4 linked regions of the Homo sapiens genome follow. The protein of the gene in region 3 purifies or fractionates together with the protein of the main gene of each other region. This does not show direct contact. Each region holds a gene or a part of one and is shown on either strand. Other genes may lie near its edges. The genes, in order: PPIL4, ACAD8, GMIP and LRPAP1.

Evidence for each region.
Region 1: the proteins of GMIP (region 3) and PPIL4 purify together in Homo sapiens (affinity purification with mass spectrometry, with the first as the bait; one large-scale study listed by BioGRID). This does not show direct contact.
Region 2: the proteins of GMIP (region 3) and ACAD8 purify together in Homo sapiens (affinity purification with mass spectrometry; one large-scale study listed by BioGRID and IntAct). This does not show direct contact.
Region 4: the proteins of GMIP (region 3) and LRPAP1 purify together in Homo sapiens (affinity purification with mass spectrometry; one large-scale study listed by BioGRID and IntAct). This does not show direct contact.

What each region holds. Positions count from the first base shown.
Region 1 is NC_000006.12:149,528,516-149,532,926, forward strand, and holds part of PPIL4 (peptidyl-prolyl cis-trans isomerase-like 4), read right to left. Parts: intron 1-4,411. UniProt on the Homo sapiens protein: PPIases accelerate the folding of proteins. It catalyzes the cis-trans isomerization of proline imidic peptide bonds in oligopeptides.
Region 2 is NC_000011.10:134,256,548-134,260,939, reverse strand, and holds part of ACAD8 (isobutyryl-CoA dehydrogenase, mitochondrial), read right to left. Parts: coding exon 4,292-4,392; intron 3,853-4,291; coding exon 3,683-3,852; intron 2,426-3,682; coding exon 2,316-2,425; intron 1,933-2,315; coding exon 1,856-1,932; intron 1,333-1,855; coding exon 1,195-1,332; intron 912-1,194; coding exon of another isoform or gene 867-911; exon of another isoform or gene 776-866; intron 1-775.
Region 3 is NC_000019.10:19,636,513-19,640,923, reverse strand, and holds part of GMIP (GEM-interacting protein), read left to right. Parts: intron 1-352; coding exon 353-478; intron 479-563; coding exon 564-628; intron 629-731; coding exon 732-839; intron 840-2,441; coding exon 2,442-2,522; intron 2,523-2,594; coding exon 2,595-2,765; intron 2,766-2,866; coding exon 2,867-3,004; intron 3,005-3,362; coding exon 3,363-3,559; intron 3,560-3,894; coding exon 3,895-4,007; intron 4,008-4,127; coding exon 4,128-4,217; intron 4,218-4,411. UniProt on the Homo sapiens protein: Stimulates, in vitro and in vivo, the GTPase activity of RhoA.
Region 4 is NC_000004.12:3,515,046-3,519,456, reverse strand, and holds part of LRPAP1 (alpha-2-macroglobulin receptor-associated protein precursor), read left to right. Parts: intron 1-465; coding exon 466-586; intron 587-1,264; coding exon 1,265-1,423; intron 1,424-3,258; coding exon 3,259-3,341; intron 3,342-4,411. UniProt on the Homo sapiens protein: Molecular chaperone for LDL receptor-related proteins that may regulate their ligand binding activity along the secretory pathway.

The sequences.
Region 1 (4,411 bases), on a different chromosome or scaffold from region 3:
GAGAAACAGATATTCTTAGAAAACAGAACATGGAATATGTTAATAAAATCAAAAGGACACAGGATCACCTTTTAGAGTGACTAAAATCCAAAAAATACCATCAGCAAATGCTGGCAAGGATGTGAGGCAAAAGAAACCCTCATTCATTGCTGGTAGGAATGTAAAATGTAAAGCCACTTTAGAAGACAGTTTGGCAGTTTCTTACAAAGCTAAACCATTCAATCCAGCATCTGAACTCCTAGGTATTTACCCAAATGCATAGAAACTTTATGCCTACACAAAAATCTGCATGCAAATGTTTACAGCAGCTTTAATCACAACTGCCAAAACTTGGAAGCAACCAAGGTATCTTTCAACAGGTAAAAAATATACAAGCTGTGATACATCCATACAATGAAACATTACTTAGCAATTAAAAGAAATGAGCTATCAGCCATGCATGGTGGCTCACGCCTGTAATCCCAACACTTTGGGAGGCCAAGACAGGAAGATCACTTGAACCTGGGAGTTTGGGATCAGCCTGAGCAACATGGGTAAGACTCCATCTCTACAAAAAAATTTAAAAATTACCAAGGTGTGGTGGCGTGTGCCTATAGTCCCAGCTACTCAAGAGGCTGAGGCAGGAAGACTGCTCAACCTCAGTTCAAGGTTATAGTGAGCTATGACAGCACCACTGCACTCCAGCCTGAGTGAAAGAGTGAGACTTTCTCTAAAAAAAAAAAACAAAAAAAAGAAAGAAATGAAATCCCAGGCCGGGCAACATAGTGAGACTCTGTCTCTACAAAAAATAAAATTAGCCGGGCATGGTGGCACACGCCTGTGGTCCCAGCTACTTGTGAGGCTGAGGTAGGAGGATTACTTGAGCCCTGGAGGTCGGGGTGCAGTGAGCCATTATTGTGCCACTGTCCATGCAACAGAGCGAGAACCTGTCTCAAATAAAAAAAAATTAAAAAAAATTAAAAAAAGGGCCGGGCAGGGTGACTCATGCTGTAATCCCAGCACTTTGGGAGGCTGAGGCGCGCAGATCACGAGGTCAAGAGATCAAGACCATCCTGGCTAACACGGTGAAACCTCGTCTCTACTAAAAATACAAAATAATTAGCCGGGCGCGGTGGCACGTGCCTGTAGTCCCAGCTACTCAGGAGGCTGAGGCAGGAGAATCTCTTGAACCTGGGAGGCAGAGGTTGCAGTGAGCCGAGATAATGCCACTGTACTCTAGCCTGACGACAAGAGCGAGACTCCGTCTCAAAAAAAAAAAAAAAAGGAGGGAAAGAAAAGAAAGAAAAAGAAAAAGGGAAAGGAGAAAGGGAAAGGGAAGAAAGAAAAAAGGCACAGTGGAACCTTAAATGTATATTGCTAAGTGAAAGAAGACAGTCTGAAAAGGCTACATACGCTATAATTCCAACTATATGACATTTTGAAAATGCCAAAACTATATAGACAGTAAAAACATCAGTAGTTGCCAAGAAGTGGGTGTTGGGGGTGGGGATGAACAGGTGGAGCCCAGGGGATTTTTTAGACAGTGAAACTACCTTGAATGATCCTGTAAGGGTAGATATATGCTATCGTACATTTGTCAGTTCCACCGAATGTACAACACAAAGCTTGAATTCTAACGTAAATCATGGATTTTAATTAATAATGTATCAATATTGGCTCATCAATTGTTAACAAATGTGTCACAATAATGCAAGACTGGGGGAAAGAGGGAGGGAGTACTTAGAAACTCTCTGTACTTTATGTTCAGTTTTTCTGTAATTCTAAAATTGCTCTACAAATTGTCTATTAAAAACAAAGCCAAAAAAAGAATCCATGAGACACGGATAATGAACGGATAGATAAGCAGTTAAGAAGGGAGGGCTCAGGCGGGCACAGTGGCTCACACCTGTAATCCCAGCACTTTGGGAGGCCGAGGCAGGCAGATCACCAGGTCAGGAGTTTGAGACAAGCCTGACCAACATGGTGAAACCCTGTCTCTACTAAAAATACAAAAATTAGCTGGGCGTGGTGGCGGGCACCTATAATCCCTGCTACCCAGGAGGCTGAGGCAGGAGAATCGCTTAAACCTGGGAGGCAGAGGTTGCAGTGAGCCAAGATTGCGCCATTGCTCTCCAGCCTGGGTGACAGAGCGAGACTCCATCTCGGAAAAAAAAAAAGAAGGGAGGGCTCTTCCTTACAGTAGAATGCAGGTTGGTAATTGTGGAAAAAGTGGTGGGGGTGGGAAATTACCACTTTGCATAATTACCACTTTGCACTTAGCAGAGTCAAAACTGGTGCAGTCAGGAATCATGAATGGCTGAGAAATTTATGGGGGAAATTTGACAAGGAACAAGACATTTGAAAGATCTCCAAGTGTCTAGCCACAGATTGTCTATTGGAGACACCAGGCAGTGGACTACCATGACCAAGTGACCAAAATTACTCATCTTCCAATGAATATCGTACACCTCCAGATGTGACCTCTGAGGACACAACATCACTCACGTACTATTTCGGCTGTGGGTGCATAACCTGAATCTAATCATGAGGAAAGAGTAGATAAACCTAAATTGAAAAATATTCTATTGGCCGGGCACGGTGGCTCATGCCTGTAATCCCAGCACTTTGGGAGGCCAAGGCAGGAGGATCGCCTGAGGTCGGGAGTTGGAGACCAGCCTGGGCAACACAGTGAAACCCTGTCTCTACTACAATTACAAAAAATTAGCTGGATGTGGTGGCAGGCGCCTGTAATCCCAGCTACTCGGGAGCCTGAGGCAGAAGAATCGCTTGAACCCGGGAGGCAGAGGTTGCAGTGAGCCAAGATCGTGCCATTGCACTCCAGCCTGATAACAGAGCGAGATTCTGTCTCAAAAAAAAAAAAAAAAAAAAAATTAGCCAGGCGTGGGTGGCAGGCACCTATAATCCCAGCTATTTGGGAAGCTGAGGCAGCTGAATCGCTTGAACCTGGGAGGTGGAGGTTGCAGTGAGCCGAGATCATGCCATTGCACTTCAACCTGGGCAACAGAAACTCCGTCTCAAAAAAAAAAAAAGGAAAATATTCTACAAAATAAATGCAACAGATGATAAGTCACGAGCTGGATTCTAGTCTGGAGGAGGAAACAATTATAAAAGATATTATTAGAACAACTGGCAAAATTGGAATATAAACTGTAATTTCTTTTTTCTTTTTTTTGAGACGGAGTCTCGCCCTGTTGCCCAGGCCGGAGTGCAATGGCGCGATCTCGGCTCACAGCAACTTTCGCCTGCTGGGTTCAAGCGATTCTCCTGCCTCAGCCTCCTGAGTATCTAGGATTACAGCCGCATGCCTCTATACCCAGCTAATTTTTGTATTTTTAGTAGAGACGGAGTTTCACCATGTTGGCCAGGCTGGTCTCGAACTCCTGACCTCGTGATCCACCCGCCTCGGCCTCCCAAAGTGCTGGGATTACAGGCGTGAGCCACTGTGCCCGGCCCTATAAACTGTAATTTCTGTCACTTCTAAATTTTCTGATTTTGGTAACTACACTGTGAATACGTACATATTGTTATACACATTGAATACTGCTGCTCTTAGGAAATACACACTGATTAAGAGGTAAAGGGAAATAACAGGCAACTTACTGTCAAATAGTCGAGAAAAAAAATGTGTGTTTATGTGCTTGTATAATCAGAGAGAGAGAAAAAGAGAGAATCATAAAACAGATGTAGCAAAATGTTAAAAATTGGTGAATGTGGGTAAAAGGTATATAGAAGTTCTATGTACTTTTTCCCATAAATTTGAAATTATCTGAAAACAAAAAGTTTTAAAAAGTATGTTAATCTATTTTCTTCTGGCATAAACTTCCAAAGTGTTGCTGTGGAAAAGTCTGATAACAATCTAAATTCATTCCCTTATAAGTAACTTATTCTTTCTGCCCAATTGTTCAACATATCTTTCAAGTGTAGTAATTCTCTTAGAATTTGTCTTGGTGTTGGGTGTTCAGAGTCAATACTCTGAGATACACAGTGTGCTCATTAAAATGTGTATTTTCAATTAATTTTTTTAATTTCAGTAAAGCTTTCTTGAACTATACAGCCTTTACTATTTGTTCATTCAGACAGTTGATGGTAATATAAACTTAAGCCTGGCCAACATAGGGAGATCCTGTCTCTACAAAAAAAATTTTAAAATTAGCAGGGCATTGTGGTGTGTGACTGTGGTCTCAGCAACTCAGGAGGCTGAGGCAAGGGCATTGCTTAAGCTGAGGAGTTGGAAGCTGCAGCAAGCTATGATCATACACCACTGTACTCCAGCCTGAACAACAGAGTGAGACCCTGTCTCTATAAAATAATAAATAAATAAACTTTAAAACAGACTACAAATCTGAAAGTTCTATTATATAAAATAGTAACTTTATTATCCATTCATTCCAATATTTATTATCTATGATAT
Region 2 (4,392 bases), on a different chromosome or scaffold from region 3:
TAGACCCACAAGAACTTAAAATGAGGAAAAAGAAAAAGTTCAGGTTTAAAGGCCTGTCAGCACTCAGAAAGATACCTGTTTCAGCTAAACATTTTCTAACTTATTAAGAGAATCTACTAATGTCTACTCTACCTGACTAACCTACAAACACTTCTCACAACTTCTTTTAGGATTGTGACACCAACTGCCCCCAATTTCAGTGCCTCTAATTGAAAACCACAAACTATCTACAATCTCCCAGTTCCTCTCTGGCTCTGAAAATAGACTGCCTTTACATCATTTCCTTGCTCTCTTTTGTTGATAGGATAAACTCCATTTCTAAGCCTTTTACTGAAGGTCTTCCTGCCCAGGAGTTAGCATGGGCTTCACACACAGTAGAAGCCTAGGAAATGGTTGCTGTGTTACCAAAGAGAAGGGGATGCTAAAATGCATAATGCCTTACAGTTACAGAGGATCAGGAAGGATCCTGTAGGAAAATACAGAAACCCGAGGAGCTGTGAGAAAGAGGTACACTTAGGGGTCATTTCATTACCTGCCTTCTCTCACAAAGTCCCCCCATAACAGTACAAACTAGAGAGAGATGACTGCTTTGAGCATCTGGTCTAAAAAATCTGAATGGGTCTTGAGCCCTTATTACCAATTACGGTTACATGATCACAAGTCTCCTGTTCATGCCCTGGCCATGGCGGCTCTTAATCCTAGAAGTATCTTACTTTTCAAATTACTTACAGTACCTAAGTGTCCTTCTTGGGTTGCTGAAATACCCACAATCATCTCCAATGAGTTTTACTTTATTTTTAATCAAAGAAGCAAAAGGGACCACACGCCTTCCATTACTGAGACTTGTGGCCAACACCAGGTCTTCTCTAAGCGTCTCTTCCTGGAGCAACAAAGTGCACCAACGTAAGCAGCTGGATAAGGAACACAGGCCAAAAGCAGAGGCAGGAGAGGTCAGAACACTCACAGGTGGCTTGAAGAATTTACTGGCAAACATTGTCACTTTCCCCAGAGGCCTAGTGTTTAATAATGCCCTGTTGTATTTCATATGCTCCTGTTGAAAATCCTAATAGAAGCAACTGCTTCAAAGGTAGGTTAGCAAGTATGCAAACCTGTTTTCTGAAATAGAGCAGGAGTTGGGCTGGCAGGTGGCAGAGTCTCATAACCTGAATTGTTTCCTGTCCAACAGCCACTCACCTTTTTCTCCTTCTTGCCAAAGCTGAGGCCAGGGGTCCCCTTCTCAACAACTATGCATGAGATGCCCTTGGGGCCTGGTCCTCCTGTTCGGCACATGACCACATAGATGTCTGACTCACCAGCACCACTGATGAAGGCCTGTGGGGGTAAAAGGGGTGCAAAAGGACCAGGGAATGCTTGAGTTCTCACAGCGTCTGGGAACACCACTGGGTCCTCCTGACAATAAGGTCCAATGGCACAGAGACTGACAATAAGGTCCAATGGCACAGAGACTGACAATAAGGTCCAATGGCACAGAGACTGACAATAAGGTCCAATGGCACAGAGACTGACAATAAGGTCCAATGGCACAGAGACTGACAATAAGGTCCAATGGCACAGAGACTGAGGTGAGGTAAAAGGTCGCTGCAGTGACTGCAGATCAGAGAGGCAGTCCAAGAGAGTATAAAAAGGATAGACAAAAGTCAACGAAATGATCTGGAATCAGATTAGGAGAGATACAAACAGTGAGAATAAAGAAAGAGAAATGGGTCAGAGGTTCTCTTCCCAACACATAAAAATCCTATGGGAGTATTAACCCGCGGATGTGAAGGAACCAGAGGATGTCAGGAGGAAGCTGGGAACAATCTCCAAAGTGCTCTGGGAGGACGCACGCTAGTACCTTGGAGCCATTGAGGATGTAATGATCTCCCTGTTTCTTAGCGGAGGTCAGAAGAGAGGCAGCATCACTCCCACTTCCTGAGGAGGGATCAAAAGGCAGCAGAGAGAAGGTGAGAAAGTCAGTGAGGTCGAGGGAGCCCAGCACAATTCTATCTTCTAGGAAATCTTCTCTAAACAGACCCTGCTCAGAGTGTGTCACTGCAAAACCCAAGTGGCCAAAGGAACTCTCTGTACTTGGTGGAAACTGCTCATACCAGTCAGGCCACTGCCTACCTCCCAACACACCAGATAGGCTTCTTGGTCCTTGTGACATCAGGTCACAGGACTCTATTACTCCTCAACCAAACAGCTAGATAAACAGTGGCTCGACATGTCAAGAGGCTGGAAGGAGTGCTCGGTAATGCCATCTGAGCAGGAAGCATCTCTCCCTGCTATATCTCAGTGCAGTGTGGCAAATTCACCTGGTTCAGTGAGGCAGTAGGAAGCAAACTTCTCCATGGTACAGAGCGGTGGGCAAAATTTGTGCCTCTGTTCCTCATTTCCGAAGCTATCAATCATCCAGGCACACATGCTGATAGGTACACCAAGAAGAAAAGACAATGACAGAAATAAAGATGGAAAAGAAAAAAAAATGGGGGAGAAGGGGAAAGAGAACAAAGGGCAGGGCAGTGGAGTAAAGCAGAAGAGTGGGAAGGGGAGAGTCACAATTGGGAAGACTCTTTAAAGGCAAACGGTGGATTAAAACATATTCCTGGAATAAGGACTACCCAGAGATAACCAGGCTGAGGTACTTCTCACCAGCACGTTTGTACTACTTCTAGTTAGGTTACACGAGCCTCTAAAAATCAGAGTTATATGTGCTTTCTATTAGTAGTTTCTATTACTTCCTCAAATCACTGGCAGTTCCATCTTTGGATTGAGGAAAAGGGTGAGAGGGGCCGGGTGCGGTGGCTCACATCTGTAATCCCAGCACTATGGGAGGCCGAGGCAGGCAGAACACAAGGTCAGGAGTTTGAGACCAGCCTGACTAACATGGTGAAACCCCATCTCTACTAAATATGAAAAAAAATTAGCCAGGTGTGGTGGCACGTGCCTGTAATCCCAGCTACTCAGGAGGCTGAGGCAGGAGAATCACTTGAACCGGGGAGACGGAGGTTGCAGTGAGCCGAGGTCATGCCACTGCACCCTAGCCTGGGCAACAGAGCGAGACTCTGTCTTAAAAATAAATAAATAAATAAAAGGGTGAGAGGACCCTGATCACTCTATTGGAGAAGTCTCCTGGTACCAGCTCAAAATAAGATTTCTGAGAAAGCTGGCTGACCTGATTCCCTAAGCAATACACAGGATGACAGAATCAAGTCCAACAGGCAGCAACAGACCTAGCGTGTACTTATTTTATTTATTTATTTTTTTTGAGATGGAGTCTCGCTCTGTCGCCCAGGCTGGAGTGCAGTGGTCCATCTCGGCTCACTGCAAGCTCCGCCTCCCGGGTTCACACCATCCTCCTGCCTCAGCCTCCCGAGTAGCTGGGACTACAGGCGCCAGCCACCACACCCGGCTAATTTTTTGTATTTTTAGCAGGGACGGGGTTTCACCACGTTGGCCAGGCTGGTCTCAAACTCCTGACCTCGTGATCTGCCTGCCTTGGCCTCCCAAAGTGCTGGGATTACAGGCACGAGCCACTGCGCCCGGCCCCTAGAGTGTACTTTTAAGTCCAGTTCCTTGAGGACACTCAGCTTCAAAAGATCAATCTTTTTCCTACGAATCTGAACTCTCACAGTCAGCCCGAGTGAGCACTTCATTGTGCCTTCCAAGCTTGGGCACTCACTTGTGGATGCTTATATAGGCTGTGGTGCTGGTGCAGCCTGTAGCCAAGGCTTCAAAAATGACAGAGGTATCAAGACGTGACAGCCCAGACCCGCCCACATCTGTTTGTATGTAGACCCCTCCGAAGCCTAGCTGGGCTGCCTTCCGCATCACATCCACTGGGAACAGCTCCTATGTACAAAAGAGAGCAGGGTGATCAGCAGCTGATTCAGAGACGGCCTTCCTTTTAGAGGGCACAGTGAGGGATTAGGAGGCTTGCACATGCGACAGCGTATGAATTCTCTTAATATGCCTGTTTGTCATCTTACAGTGGTTATCAGTTAACATGGGTCCTGTAAAAACTTGTTCTGGCATTAAGAAGTTTCTTTTTATTATCTATAGAACTGCCTTAGTTTTATATCCAAATCTTTATTCAACTAACAAAAAAAAAGTTATGTACAAGATGATCAGGATGCCTTCTAGGAAAAATCATCCACTACCGGTATTCTCACTTGCAGTAAGAGTTGGTAAGTGGAGGAGACATTTAACAATTACATTATCAGGAGACAAAGATAAAGGTCTGCCTGAGACATCTGTTGTTAGAACGTCTAAGCACAAGAAAAACGCCTACCTTCTGGTCCCACTCTGCCATATTTGGAGCCATCTCTCGGGCAGCAAAGTCAAAGGCCACTTTTTGAAATTCTTTCTGCTCTTCATTAAGTCCCATGGAAG
Region 3 (4,411 bases):
CATGGTGGCGCATGCCTGTAATCCCAGCTACTCAGGAGGCTGAGGCAGGAGAATCGCTTGAACCCGGGAGGCAGAGGTTTTGGTGAGCCAAAATCGCGCCATTGCACTCTAGCCTGGGCAACAAGAGCGAAACACAGTCTCAAAAATAAATAAATAAATAATAAAATAATAAAAAATAAAAAACAAAAAACAGTGAATCTGTAAAATTGCAACCAGGACAAGTGATCCCAAAGTAGTGTTTGGGGAGCTGTGAGGCTGTAGGACAGGTGCCACTGGGCTGGTCTGGGGGCTTAGGGAAGACATCCATAGCAGACTAGGGTGCAAAGGTCAGAGGTCCATCCATCTTCCCCAGGGGAGGAACTGGACTTGCGGCTCATTCGGACAAAGGGGGGTGTGGACGCAGCCCTGGAATATGCCAAGACCTGGAGCCGCTATGCCAAGGAACTGCTTGCCTGGACTGAAAAGAGAGCCAGCTATGGTGAGGACCTCTTCCGCCCAGCCCCAGTTACCAGGCAGTCCCCAGACCCCAGCTAGACCCAGAGCCCGGCTCTCTCTTCCCCCAGAGCTGGAGTTTGCTAAGAGCACCATGAAGATCGCTGAAGCTGGCAAGGTGTCCATTCAACAGCAGGTAGTCATGACCAGACCCCCCCGGAGAGCCCAAGCCCCCTAGAACCCCACCTTTGTCCCCCACAGATCTTCAGTATCCTCCTACACCACTCTGTCTTCCCCAGAGCCACATGCCTCTGCAGTACATCTACACCCTGTTTCTGGAGCACGATCTCAGCCTGGGAACCCTGGCCATGGAGACAGTGGCCCAGCAGAAAAGAGACTACTACCAGGTGAGGGGGGCAGGGTGGAATGTTACAGAGGTCACCCTGCTATCCTGCTGTCCTTCAGGCCTGATCCCCTCGTTTCCCAGCAAGCTGGGAGGAAGGCACCACTACCAACGTCGCCATTTCATTGATGAGGAAGCTGAGGCCCGGGGATGCTTGGGAACTTGCCCAAGGTTACCCAGCAAAGATTCAAGCTGGGCTTCCTGTGCAATTGCAAAACTTCACTTTACTTTTTTTCTTGAGACAGAATATCTTGCTCTTTTGCCCAGGCTGGGGTGCAATGGTGCGATCTCAGCTCACTGCAACCTCCGCTTCTTGGGTTCAAGCAATTCACTTGCCTCAGCCTCCTGAGTAGCTGGGATTACAGGCGCCTGCCACCACGCCCGGCTAATTTTTGTATTTTTAGTACAGATGGGGTTTCACCATGTTGGCCAGGCTGGTCTCCAACTCCTGACCTCAGGTAATCCACCTACCTCAGCTTCCCAAAGTGGTGGGATTACAGGCGTGAGCCACCACGCCCAGCCAAAAACTTCGTTTTTGTTTGTGGGGAGGGGAACGAGGTGCTGAGTGTTCTCAGGAGGAAAGCCTTGGTGTCTCTGCTTCCAAGCAGAAAGGATGGGGTGACTACATGAGACTTCTGGACTCAGGGGTCGGGGAGAGCAGGTCTGGAGAAGACCCCAGGAGGAGAATACTGACTCAGAAAAGGGTCCAGCCTGGCACGGTGGCTCATGCCTGTAATCCCAGCACTTCTGGGGGCCAAGGAGGGAGGATTGCTTGAGCCCAGGAGTTTGAGACCAACCTGGGCAACATAGTGAGACCCCCTGTCTCTACAAAAAAAAAAAAAAAGTTTTTTAATTAGCTGGGCCTGGTGCACATGTCTGCAGTGCTAGCTACTAGGAGGCTGAGGGTGGAGGATTGCTTGAGGCCAGGAGTTCGAGACTAACCTGGGCAACATAGTGAGATCCCTGTCTTTATCTACCAAAAAAAATTTATTTATTTATTTTTTTTTTTGAGACAGAGTCTCACTTTATCATCCAGGCTGGAGTGCAGTGGCATGATCTCAGCTCACTGCAACCTCTGCCTCCCGGGTTCAAGTGATTCTCCTGCCTCAGCCTCCCGAGTAGGTGGGACTATAGGAGTGTGCCATCACATCTTTATAATTTTTGTATTTTTGTAGAGACGGGGTTTCACCATGTTGGTCAGGCTGGTCTTGAACTCCTGGCCTCAGGTGATCTGCCCACTTTGGCCTCCCAAGTGCTGGGATTAAAGGCATGAGCCACTACACCTGGCCAACCAAAAAAAAAAAAAAAAAGAAGAAATTGTTTTTTAAATTAACTAGGCCTAGTGCACATGCCTGTAGTCCTAGCTACTGAGAGGCTGAGGCTGGAGGATTGCTTGAACTCAAGAGTTCAAGTTCAATGCTGCAGTGAGCCATGATTGCCCACTTGCACTCCAACCTGGGCAACAAGAGCAAAACTCCGTCTCGAAAAAAAAAAAAATAGAGTCCAGAGGTGGCAAAGCACATGGCGCAGGAATGGAAGGACTGGGTGGCTGCTTCTGGGTTGGCCCTAAGGCAGCGTCTCCATCCCCATCCCCAACCCTTGCCAGCCCCTCGCCGCCAAACGGACTGAGATTGAGAAGTGGCGGAAGGAGTTCAAGGAGCAGTGGATGAAGGAGCAGAAGCGGATGGTGAGGCTTGGAATTGGTGGAAGGGTAGGGTGAGAGAGAGGCCGGGACGCTGACCTTCTCATCATCCCCCAGAATGAGGCGGTGCAGGCACTGCGGCGCGCCCAGCTGCAGTATGTGCAACGCAGCGAGGACCTGCGGGCACGCTCCCAGGGGTCCCCTGAGGACTCGGCCCCCCAGGCCTCGCCGGGACCTAGCAAGCAGCAGGAGCGGCGGCGGCGCTCGCGAGAGGAGGCCCAGGCCAAGGTGGGCACCCGGCCCCGAGCCCCTGTAGCGCTGTGGCGCCCCCTGCCCTCCACTCTCGCCCACACGCGCCCCACCCCGCTCCTGGCCTCCCGTTTCCCCAGGCGCAGGAGGCCGAGGCGCTGTACCAGGCCTGTGTCCGCGAGGCCAACGCGCGGCAGCAGGACCTGGAGATCGCCAAGCAGCGAATCGTGTCGCACGTGCGCAAGCTGGTGTTTCAGGGGGATGAAGTGCTGAGGCGGGTGAGGCCCATCCCCAAGGCCATCCTCCCCTCACCCCGTTGGGGCCCCGACTGAGTGCCCCACTCCTCGCCCCTAAGCCACCCTGGAGACACCAGGACTAGGCCATTTCCCTCGACAGCCAGTTCCCGCCCCCAGACCCACTGTCTCGGCTCCGCCCCATGAGGTCCTGTCCCCTGGATGACCAGCCCCTGCTCTGACCATGCCTGGGTCCCCTGGCCGACTGCCCTAGTTCCTAAGCCGCCCAGGTGCGTCCCAAACCCTGACCACGTTCGCGTCTCTCAAGCCCCGCCCCAGCTCTGGCCCTGCCCCCAGGCTCCCAGGCTCCGCCCCTCCCCAACCTGCTGTCTCCACCCGGCAGGTGACGCTGAGTCTCTTCGGGCTGCGGGGGGCGCAGGCAGAGCGTGGCCCCCGCGCCTTCGCCGCCCTGGCCGAGTGCTGTGCGCCCTTTGAGCCGGGCCAGCGCTACCAGGAGTTTGTACGGGCGCTGCGGCCCGAGGCCCCGCCGCCCCCGCCGCCCGCCTTCTCCTTCCAGGAGTTCCTTCCCTCCTTGAACAGGTGGGTCACTGGAGCAGGGAGTCGGGAACGAGCCCCGGAATCGCGATGCCAGGCTGTTGGCACCGCAGGCTGGTTACTCGAGGTTAGAGAACGCAAAGCCTTAGTGGAATTTAGTACTCCAGGCTCTCGGGGGCCATAGGAGGGTGAATGGGTTGTCCCAGTCCTAGGGGCAGGGGCAGGAATGTGGGGCTACTGTATTTCAGGGGCCACAATGCCCTGGGTGTCAGGGTTTGCAGACCCAAGTGCTTGGAGTTGGTACCTAGACATGATGCCTGGGTGCCATCACCCCAGGCCAGTTTCCTGGGATTCAAACCTTCAAACTTCTGTCTTCTCAGCTCCCCTCTGGACATCAGAAAGAAGCTCTCTGGGCCTCTTCCTCCAAGGCTGGATGAGAATTCAGCTGAGCCAGGCCCTTGGGAGGATCCGGGCACAGGCTGGCGCTGGCAAGGTGAGTGCAATGAGGGCCAGGTGGGAGTGGTGCCAGGAGTTCGTTCCACCAACACATAGGTGGGCTGCAGGAGTGGGGTTTGTGAGCAGGGGACCATCCTTATTGACCTGTGCCACCTAGGGACTCCAGGCCCCACTCCGGGCAGCGATGTGGACAGCGTGGGTGGCGGCAGCGAGTCTCGGTCCCTGGACTCACCCACTTCCAGCCCAGGTAGGGATAGGACCTGGTCCTGACCCACACTCCACCTGTGACCATCCTCCAGCCCCTGGCCAAGCTCTGACCCTCAATCTTTAACTATCTTTGACCTCTGACCTACCCCACACCCCTGACCTATTTCCTCAACCTCTTTTTTTACCTTTTTAAAAATTATTTATTTATTTATTTGTTTGTTTATTTGAGACAGT
Region 4 (4,411 bases), on a different chromosome or scaffold from region 3:
AAGGGGGCAGAGAGGGAGAGAGGGCCCTGTGTGGCCTCCCTGGACGTGTGTGAGCCACGTCATCTCACAACCAGGAGGCAGGTGGGATGACAATGAGGGGCTGGCAGAGGTCCCCCTAGGAAGGTGGCCTTGCTGTCCTCACCACCTGCAGCCGGGAGAGCCAGGCAAGCCCGGGGTCACCGGGCTGCTGCCCTGTCCCCCTCCTTGGGATCTTCTGCTCCCCACCCCAGCCAGCTCGGTAGCTGTCCCCTGTTGAGCCTGGACACGTCCAAGAGAAGGGTGGTTGCCTGCCGGCAGCTCTTCTCCGGTTTGTTTTTTGTTTTCCTGCCCTTCGTGAGGCCAAGAACCTGGCCTGGCACTCACGTAGGCAAGGGCCTGCCTGGCCATGAGGAGTGGTTGGCTGAAGAGCGGCCCTGGCCACACGAGCCCGCGGCGGGTTCACTCCAGGCCTTGTTTCCCTCTTAGGCGAAGACCTCTGGGAAATTCTCCGGCGAAGAACTGGACAAGCTCTGGCGGGAGTTCCTGCATCACAAAGAGAAAGTTCACGAGTACAACGTCCTGCTGGAGACCCTGAGCAGGACCGAAGGTGCCCCCCGCCCCCACCCCCTCCTGCCCTCTGCCCCACCCCCTCCTGCCCCCCACCCCTCCTGCACCTGAGGCTCGTTGTGCTCAGTGGGCAGCCTCAGCTCCCCTCAGGAACACAGCAGGGGCAGGGAGGCGGCACCAGACGCCCTCCCAGGGTTCCACCGGACTTGTGAGTGGGGAGGTTGCTGTGCAGGCAGGCTCTGGGAGTCGCCTGCCTGCATTGGATGAACCAAGTCTCACCGGCGCCTGCCCCCACTATGGGCACAGCTGCTGCCTTTGTCAGACCTGAGCTTCGCTGATGGGTCCTTCATTCTGGACTCGTGACCCTCCCCAAATGTGTGACTTTCCCACCCCACAAAGCTGGAGTAAAATGGAGGGTGACCCAGCAGAGAGGGGGCAGGGCAGGGGTCCAGAGTCAGCCCCCAGGGGACCTGGTGCCCCAGCTGTCACCGCCAGGCGCCACTTGGTGCGCGTGTCCCGGCGTCTCGCCTGTCTCGCCTGGAAAGGAAGCTGTGCCAACGGTCGTTTCTGCGGCGCTGCAGGACCGCGGAAGGGGGACATTTTCAGCCCAGAAATGAGAGCGAGTTTGAGCTCCCCAGCAGTGGGCGTTCTAGACAGTGGTCTGGGCAGGCAGTGCGAGGACTCCCAGCCTCATGGCGTCCTGCCTTCGGTTTTACAGAAATCCACGAGAACGTCATTAGCCCCTCGGACCTGAGCGACATCAAGGGCAGCGTCCTGCACAGCAGGCACACGGAGCTGAAGGAGAAGCTGCGCAGCATCAACCAGGGCCTGGACCGCCTGCGCAGGGTCAGCCACCAGGGCTACAGCACTGAGGCTGGTGAGTGCCCGCCCGGGACTGTTGGTTCCCGAGGGTGGGGCCGTCTCTGGTTGTGTTTTGGGGACAAGCAGGCAGGTGCTTGTAGCGACGGGAACCTGGGCCTGTGGACGCAGCGGAGACCCTCGGCGCGCTCAGTCTACCCACGGGTGGTCACAGGCCTCGCTCCCAGGAGCTGCTCCGTGAAGGTCACTCGCCGTCCCCAGCCTTGTACCTGGAGACTAGCAGAGGGCAGTGGCGGCAGCGGGCCTGGGAGCAGCCCTTCCCAGCGTCTCCCCAGCCTCAGCAGCACGGCCCCTCCCGTGCTGCTGTTGGCCAAGAACAGAGACCACTCGTCAAACATAGCTCCGTCTCCATCTCATGCCACCCACACCGTCCATCAGTCCCCCTCAGCCCGGCAGGGGCAGGACGCCCGCTGAGGCCACAGAGCTTGTGGCTCCGTCTCAGCAGCTCATCTCCCTCCACTGCAGGCCCTCAGTGGCCAGGCTCTGCACCACTGCTTCTTGCCCCGTACCCGGGCCAGAGCCTTGTGCAGGGTGTACCAGAAGCCTGCTGGCCTCACTCACGCAGCTTCCGATTCTGTACCTCATCCTCCACGTGCACACTGAGCACCAGCTGCACGCCAGGCACTGCTCTAGGCTCGAGGAGACAGCAGCCGCCAGGAGATGGCATCTGTGCCCTCATGGTGATAAGACAGCAGGGCTGGTCTCTGTCCCCGGTGCCAGGCAGAGCCACCGCCTCGTCTCCAGGATGGTCTGCCCAGAGGCAGCCTCCAGCACAGCAGTCAAATGTGTCCACGCGGGCCCAGGTCCCCTTGGGTGGCTGTGCTGCTGTCACCTGAGTGCCCTTGGGCAAGACCCCTCACCACCCACCCCCAAACCCAGGCTCCCTTAGCCTGACCTGGTGCTGGTGACTGTCAGCCGTAGGCTTTTGGCCGTAGTGCTGGGGGCTGGACCACCTTGTAGGCCTGCGATGCAGTTTGCTGAGTTCCTGTGCTGGAGAGACCCGGATGAGCCTGGCTATAGTCCATGCAGGAAAGGGCGACTCAGCCCCACACACTTCTCTTCCCACCTCGGGCTGTCCCCAAGGCAGTTGTGTCCAGCGGCTCCTGCAGTTCTCTTGCGGGTCTGCCTGGGCCTTCCAGCAAGCCCCACCAGCCCAGGGTCCTCGGGGTCCTGAGCAGGAAGGGGTCAGCAGAGGAGGGAGCAGGGGCCACTGTTGCGGGGCTCCATGGGCAGGCGGCTCTGGACTACTCACTCCTGGTTGGAGAGTGGTGACAGCCCCGGAGTCTCTCACTGCGTCCCTTCGTGAGCACCAGGGTCCAGGAGCCGTCTTGGTTTGTTTGGCTCCTCCCAGGAGCCCGAATGTTTGACTTTCACGAGCACAACATCCTGCTGGAGACCCTGAGCAGGACCGAAGGGAAACGGCCTGTGCCTGCGTCTGGACCTGGCTGAACTTGCAGGTGCCCCCACCCGAGGTCCTGGCAGCCTCTGCACACAGGCCACGTCCATCCTCTGCCTCCTGCTTCAGAGGCAGCCAGGGCGGGCTGTGGCGCTTCCCAGGCTCTGATGGAGGCAGGTGTTTCTGGACACAAAGGAGAAGCAGTTGTTTGGCCAAGGGGACAGAGAAGCCACATTTCAGCGAGGTCATGTGAGCTACTGAGCAGATGCCCTCTGTGCCCCATAAGACTTTGAGTGCACGCACCCGTGTTTCACACACATGCAGGTCGCGCCTGCAAACCCTCATAGGCTCCACGCACACTCAGCGTGGTTGCCGCGGGGCTGGCTGTGGTGTGCACCCCGGGTGCTGCTGAGGCCACTCTTGCTCCTCCCCTGCAGAGTTCGAGGAGCCCAGGGTGATTGACCTGTGGGACCTGGCGCAGTCCGCCAACCTCACGGACAAGGAGCTGGAGGCGTTCCGGGTAAGGAAACACGGCCCTCTCCTTCTAGCTCTCTCCTGTGGTGAAGATTCTCTTGCAGTTTCCGGGTAAGGAAATGCAGCCCTCTCCTCCAAGCTCTCTCTCTCAAGATTCTCGCAGTTTCTTCCTTAACCACTCGGTGAACCTGCTTGCGTTTTCCTTCTCATCTGCGTGGGAACTCGTGTTTCAGGGGCGGGGCCAGGCTCTGGAGGGAGGGGCTTTGGTTCTTTTGTCCGTGTTCACGTCTGAGCGTGGCCTTGGTGCGGGTCCTGTGGATGGTCAACAGTTGGTCGGGACCCAGCCACAGCCTGGGGGGAGGGGACCAAGGACACTACCGGGATCGTTTAGGGGTGTCACCACTTCCTGAGATGGAGGCCCAGGGAGGGAAGGAGACCACCTCAGGTGGCAGGGGCTCCTGGGGCGTGTGGAGTGCCAGATCATTCTGAGGGTGGAGAATTCATCAGCTCGGTGAGCACCCAGCAGGGCTGTGAGGAGTGGGGAGTCCATCGGGGGTCCTGGGTGGGCAGCCTTGAGTATGGTATCCGGCCATGAGTTCACCCAGGGTCCCTATAGCTGGTGTCTGTTGGGAGGGAGGTGGGTGTGGTCCTGCCCTCATAGGACTTGGGACTTTCCTGGCCCCAGGAAGGGCCCTTAGCACCTCCCCCAGAAAGGGGTCAGGAGCTTCCCTCTGGGGCTGGGGCACCTTAGCTGGCCGCAGGCACGTGCATGGGGCTTGGCAGGTGGGGCCACATGGAGGGCCCTGGGTCTGGAGCGTGGGGTCAAGGCAGGGCAGGGCACCTACAGGAGCAGGGACAGAGCTGCAGTCCAGCAGCAGTGGAGCCCAGGCAGGCTGGGGGCAGGGTGCAGAGGCAGCCACCACAGAAGCACAGCCCCTGGACATGGGGTCTGGCTGGGAACGAGCTGGAGGCCCCCTAGATTCGGGGGGCGGGGGTGCCATTTGCAGAGACAGGGAAGGGGTCGGCTTAGGGCTGCCAAGGAGGCGCGGGCTGGGACCCGTTGCTAGTGTGATGGCCTCCCAGCTGCCGCCCCCTCATTGCCCATGTCACCGCAAG